Linked DNA regions of Homo sapiens: region 1 is linked to region 2. Evidence: fine-mapped expression QTL. A gene starts in region 2. The other region holds a variant in brackets. All regions are shown on one strand. Distances are between the middles of the regions. Region 1 overlaps NFILZ (NFIL3 like basic leucine zipper). Region 2 holds the start of ADAMTS10 (ADAM metallopeptidase with thrombospondin type 1 motif 10).

Region 1 (4,388 bases), 69 kb after region 2:
ACCCCCGGCCTGGGGCTGAAGCACTCTCATCCTTGTCTGGCTCTCACAGCTGCCTCTTAAGGCCACGTTCCCTGGATGCTGGGATTCCAGGATGTCGGGGCTGCCTGCTGGCTCCCAGATGGACTGGCTTGGCCACTTCTCCTAGGTCCCCCCAAGAGTCTGCATCTCCTACCCTCAACAGAATTGACATGGCCTTGCAGACTGCCCTCCCACCTGCCCTCTTCAGCTGTCACCTCTTGGAGGGGCATGTAGGGTCCAGACCAGAGCTCAGACCCTGCTGGGGGCTGTGGTCACCAGTGCCCTCTGGATGCCGGGCTTCAGGGCCATCAGATGTGTTGCTGACACCCACTGCTGATCCCATGGGTCTGTCTCCTGGGGTGACCTGCCCTGCCCCAGGGAACAGTCCTGAGGGTCTGGGTCAGCCCTCTCTGCCCCACAAACTGCGCATCAAGTCCCGAGCCTCAGGCAGGGTACCTCGTGGCTGGGAGGGTGGTCAGGCGCCCCTCTGAGGGCTTCCTCTGGGAAGGGCTAGGCTTGCAAGGGGGTGTTTGGGGGCGGAATATAGGTTTGTCTGAGGGATGAGTAGCTTGGTCTTGATCAGCAATCTGGGAAGGCCTGTAGGAAGTAGGGGTGCCCTGGCTTGGAAGGTCCACTTCACAGCTTCCATACCAGACCTCCTAGGGGTGGAGTGGATGGGAGCCCATCTTGGATTCTACCATGGCTCTTGCCTTGCCTTAAAATCTATGCTTTGGGTTGTCACTTTTCCCTCTTCCTTCCTCCTTTCCATTTATCTATTCTTCCCTATAGCCATCCATTCATCCATTCATCCTCATTTATTCATCCATTCATTCATTCATCAATCCTTATCCATCCATCCATTAGTCCCTCCATCCTTATCCATCTATCCATCCATCCATCCATCCATCCACCCATCTATTCATCCATCCATCAATCCATCCATCCATTCCATCCATCCATCCATCCATCCATCCATCCATCCCTCCATCCATTCATCCACTTGTCCGTCCATCCATCCATCCATCCATCCATCCATCCATCCATCCGTCCATCTATCCATCCATCCATTCATCCATCCGTCCATCCATTCAGCCATCCATCTGTCCATTTATCCATCCTCCATTTATCCATGCATCTATTCTCATTCATCCATGCATTTGTTCTTCCTTCTTTCTATCTAGCCATCCATTCTCATTCATCCATGCATTTGTTTTTCCTTCTATCTATCCATCCATCCATTCATTCATCCACCCATCCACCTATCTATGCATGCATCCATCCATCCTCATCCACTCATCCACCCATCCTCACCTATCCATCCATCCACCCATTCTTTCTTGCTTCTATCCATTTTCCCATCCACACACCTATCCATTCATCCATTCATACATCAATTTATTCTCCATCCATCCATCCATCCTCATCCATTCCCATTCATCCATCCATCCTGTCTTCCTTCCTTGCATCCACTCATCCTCATCCATTTACCCATCCATCCATCCATCCTCACCCATCCATCTACACATCCTTCCTTTCATCCACCCATTCATCTACTCATCCACCCATCCATCCTTTCATTCATTTATTCATTTAGCCACTCATTTATGTGCTAACTTGTTTATTCATTCATTCTCTTACTCATTAATTTACTTATAATTCACTTGTCCCCTCACCCACCCACTCACGATCTTTAGACCTTCCTTTTGTGCCCAGTTAGTGACAAGTGAGAAGACACTTTTCTGGTCTTGGGTTTCCTGTCCTGGGGTAGGAATGGGTGTTTGGGAAGAAACATACTGAAGACCAGACTGAAGGAGGAGGTAACGTCTAGGGTGTCTGAATCCCCCTTCTTGGTGTCCCCTGGGGGGCTTGCTTACCACCCAGTTTGAGGGGCAGACATATTGGCTTCTTCTGTGTCTTGGATCAGGCCTTGAGCTGCTGGAACAGGAGCAGCTGTGTGAGGGCATCAGTGTCCTCTCTCTCCCTGGCTGCCCCCTGCCCCTGAGAACCAGGTATACACCCACCCAGGTGGAAGGGTCCATTCTGCAGGGAAGGTCTTCCAGGGGCCTGGAGCCCAAGGACTTATCAAGGCTCCCTCCTCCTCAGTTTCTCACTCAGCCCCTCTCC[CATTATT/C]ATTATTATTATTATTATTATTATTATTATTACATCAGGGATCTTGTTAGATTCTAGATAAAAATACTCAAACTCCAATCATGGGGAGAGCTCATGGGATGGGGGGCTCATCTGGACTGGTACTGACACTGAGAACCAGATGCCCCTGGCCAACTGGATCACTTGGACTCAGGAGCATCGCCCACCCCCACCAGATCTGGGGGCTGGGCTAGTTCTTGGCTACTCCAAGTTTATCAGAGCCACAAATGTGTGCAGGGTGAGGACGTACAAAGTGCCTCTCTCTCACTAGTACAACAGGTGGGCAGTATCACCAAACAGGCCAAGAGCTCCCCTGTGACTGGGCATCCCTAGAATCCTGCACATCACAGGTAGGACCTCCTCTACTTGCTCAGCCTTTGGTTCTGGTCCAGGGCAGGGATTGGGCAAGATCAGCCCTTCTCCTTCCCTCCATGCCTGACCTTCCAGCAGGTGGCTTTTCTCATGTCACTGAGCCTCCCTTATACATCTATAAATGTTTACCTATAAATGAGCCCATTCCCTAGAAATATATTGTGAATATTAAATAAGAGGCAGTAAATAAATTGCCCGGTATAGGGGCTTCTCTGGACTGTTTTATCTTCATAAATAATGTGAATCCTGGAGGGCAAGGTGGCTCATGCCTGTAATCCTAGCACTTTGGGAGGCCAAGGCAGATGGATCTCACTTGAGGTCAGGAGTTCGAGACCAGCCTGGCCAACATGATGAAGCCCCGTCTCTAGTAAAAATACAAAAATTAGCCGGGCATGGTAGCGAGCGCCTGTAATCTCAGCTACTTGGGAGGCTGAGGCATGAAAATCACTTGAACCCAGGAGGTGGAGGCTGCAGCGAGCTGAGATTGCACCACTGCAGTCCAGCCTGGGCGACAGAGCGAGACTCCATCTGAAAAAAAAAAAAAAAAAAAGGAAAAAGAAAAAATCCTGTTTCCCTTTTTGCTTTGCCCACCAAGGAGCTCAGGGCCGAGCTTGTGGCTCAGCTATAACAGCATTTTCATTCATTCATTCATTCATTCATTCATTTTTTAATTCATTTGCTTATTTAGCAAATTTTCTTGATCATAAGTTTCTCATTGTTTCATTTTATTCAAGGCATGTTTTGTTGTAAAAAGTCTGAAAATCATATGCAGCCGAGTTGGCAGTCTTTTCTTTTGTGGTTTGTACATTTTTGTCATGTTTAAGACAACTTCCATGTCTCAAGATCATAAAGATAGTCTCCTATCTTTATGTTCCAGGTACTGGGGAAAGAGAAGTGAACACAATAGATGTGATTCCTGCCTCTATGGTACTGATAACCCAGGGAAGGAGATAGATTAAAAAATAAGAAAAACATATAGTAGGATCAATGATGATACGTGTCATGGAGAAAAAAGGGAGGCTTGGGAAAGGTAGGTGTGGGTGCGTTGTAATAATTGAAATAGGGAGATCAGGATTGAAATAGGGGGATCTCAGCCTTGCTGAGAAAGTGACATTTGAACAGAGACTTGAGAGAGATGAAGGGGGGAGTCATGCATGTATCAGAGGAAGAACATTTCCTAGTCAGAAAGAACAGCCTGTGCAAAGGCCCTGAGGTGGGATAGTGCCTAGTGTTTTGAGGAAGATTGAGGAGGCCCATGTGGCTGGAGTGGAGTGAGTAAGGGGGAGAGAGGGAGGAGGCGAGGGCAGGGAGGTGATGGAAGCAGGTTGTGGAGGACTTTGTGGGCCAAGGTGAGGACTTTGGCTTCCTTTCTGAGTGATATGGGCATGAGGGGGACGTTTCCAAGTATATTTCTGTTGTAGTTCTCCCCTTACCTCCATCCTGTGATGTGTGAGGCTGAGTGAAAATAAACCCACCACATAAGTGCAGGAGAGCTGGCTCATTGTCTGGGGTGGGGATAGGTGGGGACTGACCACAGTGTTGCTGTGACTCATGTCCCCCTAAATGGCCACATTCTCCCTGCGCTCAGAGCCAGGGTGCTCATCCCATCCCTGCTTCTAAACTTCTCTGAGATATGACGGACAGGGCAGGTAAAGCTACTCCATGAGGTGGAATCATGGAAGAAAAACACAGATGGTTCTTTTTTTTCTTTATGAAGCTGTCTTCCACTAAATAATTATTTTTGACAAGTGTGGGAGAAAGGGTAATCAGATGCATGTGGGGGATGCTGGAAGGGCAAAGGGATGGCTGAGGTGGGAGATGAGTCAGTGAGGAAGTGGCCAGGAATAGTT
Region 2 (4,388 bases):
CTCTCTCTGCCCCTGGAGAACTTCCTCTTAGACTTCTTCTTTCTTCTGTTCCTAATGAACCCCCTCCAACAAAAACCCACCTCCTCTCCCTCTCCCTCTCTTCTTGCTTCTTCTTCCCTATTCCTTCTTTGGAAGTGTCAGCCAACTCCCAGATCAAGGCCCTTCCTGGTTGGGCACCTCTGACCCCCGCTCCTGCCCTGAGCCACCCCTGAAAGGTAGGAACATTCTCATTGCAAGTGAAGCAGGGACCTCACCCCTTTCTCCCACTGGCTCCCTCCCTCCTCTCCTGTTCTTGCATTGCCAGGCCTGGTGCCCCATCCTCCTCCTTCAGGGGCTCTCTCTGGTCTTGTCTAGAGTGTCTTTGGGTCTGTCCTGGTCCCCCTAAGACCCTCAGTCCTCATCACTGTCCTCTGAAGTGAGGCGCTCCTCCCAAAACCCTCACACCCCCTTCTGTGCTTTGGGCTCAGGTGGGGTGTGAGGGACAAGGTTTGGGACATTGTGGAAGGACCCAGCACAGGGGGTGAGGACAGGGGAAGGGGACTCACCTGTGCACAGTGTATGGGGTAGGGGGAGGAGGGGGGTCTGCAGAAGGCTCACAGGCGTCTGAGCTGGGGGTCCAGCCCACAGGGTGGTGTCGAGGTGTGACACAGCCCAGGGCACCAGGTGGTGGGGGGACATGAACAAGGCAGTGGGTCTGGGGCCAAAGATGAAGCTTGAGAGAGGCTCAGGGACAGAGACGGTGGTGGCCAACAGGATGTCAGTGAGGGATCTGCACTGTGGCGTGTGTGTGTGACTGCATGTACATTACAGCATGTATGTGAGTGTGTGTGACCCTGTGTGTGATTGTGAGCGTGTGACTGCATGTGCATTATGGCTTGTGAGTGTGTGTGACCCTGTGTGTGTGTGTGTGTGTGTGTGTACCCAGGCCTGGCCATTCCTCCAGCCCCTCCTCCCCGAAGGCAGGAGGGAGGTGGCCAGCGTGGGGGAGGGTGCCAGGCCTGGAGGAGGAAATGCCTCCGGGAAATGGAAATGGCTTAGAAACAGAGGCTCTGTCCCATCCCATCCCATCCCGGGGATCCTGAAGGGACCCTAAGCTCCACACCCAAACCTCTCCGGCCAGGCTGCGGGGACAGGGCCGACGGAAGGTCCCCCGTGGAGGCCAAGGCCGCGTCTCCCCAGGCAGAGGCCCCAGCCTGCCGGCCTCCTCCCGGCTGCACATCTGGCCGGGCCGGCAGGAGGCAGTCCCTGCCGGAGAGCAGACAAAGGCCCAGCCGGGGCCTGCGGGAGGAGGGGGCCGGCGCCCGGGCTGGTCCCCCACAACCGGCCGCTAATTAAAGGCCCTGAGCCCGACCGCTGGAGACACCCTGAGACAGACGGCTGTGGCCTCACTGACCAACTCAGGGGAAGTGGGCGGCGCCACTCCCACACCCAGACACACAAACACACACTGGCAGCGACACACACCCCGCGCAACCAGAGACCGGCGCTCGGGCACTGTAGACCCACAAAAGACGCAGGACGCCTCCACCGCAGACACACACGCCGACAGGCTCAGTGCACACTCACACACCCGGAGACAAACACATGGAGACACACAACCACACACTCCCAGACATGTGTAAACACACACTCATTTACACGCGCACACACGGGACAAGACAGAGAAACACGCGGACACACAAATACACGCACCCGGGGCCTACACAAACAGAAACACACACATACATACACAGACAACCCAAGGAGACAGACACACAGGCCTACACGCTGACACATACACACTCATTTGCATGCTCACACCAAACCAGAGACAAACTCACAAGTCCCACAGACCTAGACACCCCCCCACACCAGACACACACACACAGGTATTTACACACTCATCACGGTCAGAGACAAACGCACACATGCTTGGGGACACACACACAAACCCAGACACACACACACTCGCCTCCAGATCTGCGCGCACATAGCAAACCCCTATGCGCACACACTGTCCAAACACACAGACACACAAGAGACTCATCCCCAGGCACTGACACACACATGTAATGCACAACCACTCTGCCCCTACGTGGACGGACACACACACACACACACACACACAGCGCAAACAAACCCACGGCAACCCCGGGCGTGATCAGTGGCGCGCGCACTTGCGGACCTCAGGCACCGACCGGAGTCGCACAGCGGGATGCCCTCCCCCATCCAGGGCACCACAGCCCCACGCCCTCACAGCCCGATGCGGACACACAAAGTCCCACTGAATCACGCACCCCCGGGCCCCCCGCCCGCGCCGCTACCTGCGCCGCGCCCGGGGCCTCCGCGCCGTCGCCGCCGCTGTCTCGCCGCCCCGCGCGCGCAGGAAGGGAGGGAGCGAGCGAGCGCGGCGGCGTGGCCAGGGGAGGGGGCGCGGGGAAGGCACTTCCTGAGCCGCCTGCCAGGGTTATAAAAAAACCCCCAAACTGCGCGCGGCCAGAAACCCCGCCCGCCTGCCGCCGCCCGGCCTGGGCCGCGGGCTGGACCCCAGCCAGGGACCCGGGAACTCGGGCCGCCCCGCCCGGGACCAGCGCCCCCGCCGCGTGGGAGGGGGCTGGGGAACCGCGGGGGGCGGGGAGGGGACGAAGCGGGAGAAATCGAGTGGCGGCGGGGAGAATGGGTGGGGGAGGGGAGAAAGAATCAGGTGGGGGATGGGGATGGAGGCAGAATTGGGTGGGTGGGGGTTCGGGGAAAGGGAGGAAGAGAAGGGAGAGGTTGGGGGAGGGGGAAGTTTGAATGGGAAGGGGTAGGGGGAGATGGAGGCCTGGAGGAAGGGGCTGAGTGAGGTGGGGGGAGGTGGGGGCCTGGAGGAAGGGCTGAGTGGGGTGGGGGGAAGTGGGGGCCTGGAGGAGGGGCTGAGTGGGGTGGGGGGAGGTGGGGGCCTGGAGGAAGGGGCTGAGTGGGGTGGGGGGAGGTGGGGCCCTTGAGGAGGGGCTGAGTGGGGTTGGGGGAGGTGGGGCCCTGGAGGAGGGGCTGAGTGGGTTGGGGGGAGGTGGGGGCCTGGAGGAAGGGGCTGAGTTGGGTTGGGGGCCACGGGAAGGAATGGAGGGGGGTAAGGAATGGGGCTGGAGGGGGGATGGGAGCATGAGATGCTGGGGTTGGGGAGGGGAGAGCCCACTTCCTCGCCAGCCTCTGCGGCATCAACAACAGCTGTTATTTATTGAGGGCTGGGCCTGGCTCAAACAAGCATTTATTGGGCGCCTCCCGTGTGCCAGGCACGGTGCCCGGGGCGGGAAATAAGTCCCAGCTCGGCCCCGCCCTCTCCGAGCTCTCAGGGGGGTTTGATCGGTCCTGGGCCTGGCCTTGGTCTCTGTGCCTTAACTCCTTTGCGGTGACGTAGGCTCAGCTGGTCCCATTTCACAGATGAGGAAACTGAGGCCACAGAGATGGGGAGAGTGAAAATTCTGTTGGAACCGGAGCCCTCTTGGTCTTGGTCACTCTGGGTCTCGCTCCATAAAATGAACGAATGCGTGAATGAGGAGGACCTGGATGGTTGGGGCAGGGCTGGGATTTGAATCCCAGGCGCCTGGTACAGTGCCTGGTTCCAGGGAAGGGCGGTGACCCCCAGGCCTCACAATTGCAGGCATTTCCCAGGAACGCCCCCCCCCAGGGAGCTGGCCAGAGCCTTGGCCTTGGCTTTGTCTGAGTCTGGGTTTACTCATCCACACAGTGGGGGTAATAACAGCCTTCCCAGGGCTGGAGTAGGGGGTGGAGGAGGGGTTTCATTCTGCAGCAAAGATTTGTTGTTATGTGCTGGGTTCCAGGGACACAGCTGAGACCAGGAGGGCAGCTTCCCAACTCGGAATTTTTCCTTTTGAACTTGGAATGACCTGTCATTACTCACGCATACAGCAGGTGCTGCATAAATACCAGACTCCTGGAGTTCCCACCACACTACCTTACCCCAACCTCCTGGGACTCCAGGCTAGACCAGAGGTGCAGCCCCCACCCTCCTGTTTGCTCCCCACACTCCCTCCTTCCCACCAGGGCCTCTCGGGCCCCCATTTGAGGAACGAGTCTAAGTCAGCCATTTCTGGCCTCTGTTAGCTGTTCTTCTACTACCTATGGGGCCCTCTTTCTCCATCAAAGAGGTGGTGGCTTCCTTTCTTTGCTGTAGATACTAAAGGCTCCCACTGTTAGCCTAGTGACTGGTCCAGCCACCTGTCCCTACTTTTTTTTTTTTTTTTTTTTTGAGATGGAGTCTTGCTGTGTTGCCCAGGCTGGAGTGTGGTGGTGTGATCCTGGCTCACTGCAACCTCCGCCTCCCGGGTTCAAGCAATTCTCCAGCCCCAGCCTCCCGAGTAGCTGGGTTTACAGGCACCTGCCACCATGCTCGGCTAATTGTATTT

Evidence for each region. PIP is the estimated chance that this variant, and not a neighbour inherited with it, causes the effect. A credible set is the group of variants that fine-mapping cannot tell apart.
Region 1: its variant is the best candidate, but not a certain one, in a credible set for the expression of ADAMTS10 in whole blood (INTERVAL, PIP 0.80).

The regions. Positions count from the first base shown.
Region 1 is chr19:8,677,127-8,681,514 of GRCh38, forward strand. NFILZ (NFIL3 like basic leucine zipper) reads left to right here. Exons shown (of 6, transcript NM_001378600.1): 6 at 1-4,025. The coding sequence ends at 509. Among named protein-coding and RNA genes, the nearest start is that of ACTL9, 19 kb to the right of the region's middle. The variant CATTATT/C (reference allele first, on the strand shown) is at 2,143.
Region 2 is chr19:8,608,341-8,612,728 of GRCh38, forward strand. It overlaps ADAMTS10 (ADAM metallopeptidase with thrombospondin type 1 motif 10), which reads right to left and starts at 2,375. Exons shown (of 26, transcript NM_030957.4): 1 at 2,304-2,375. RefSeq lists a silencer at 1,273-1,695.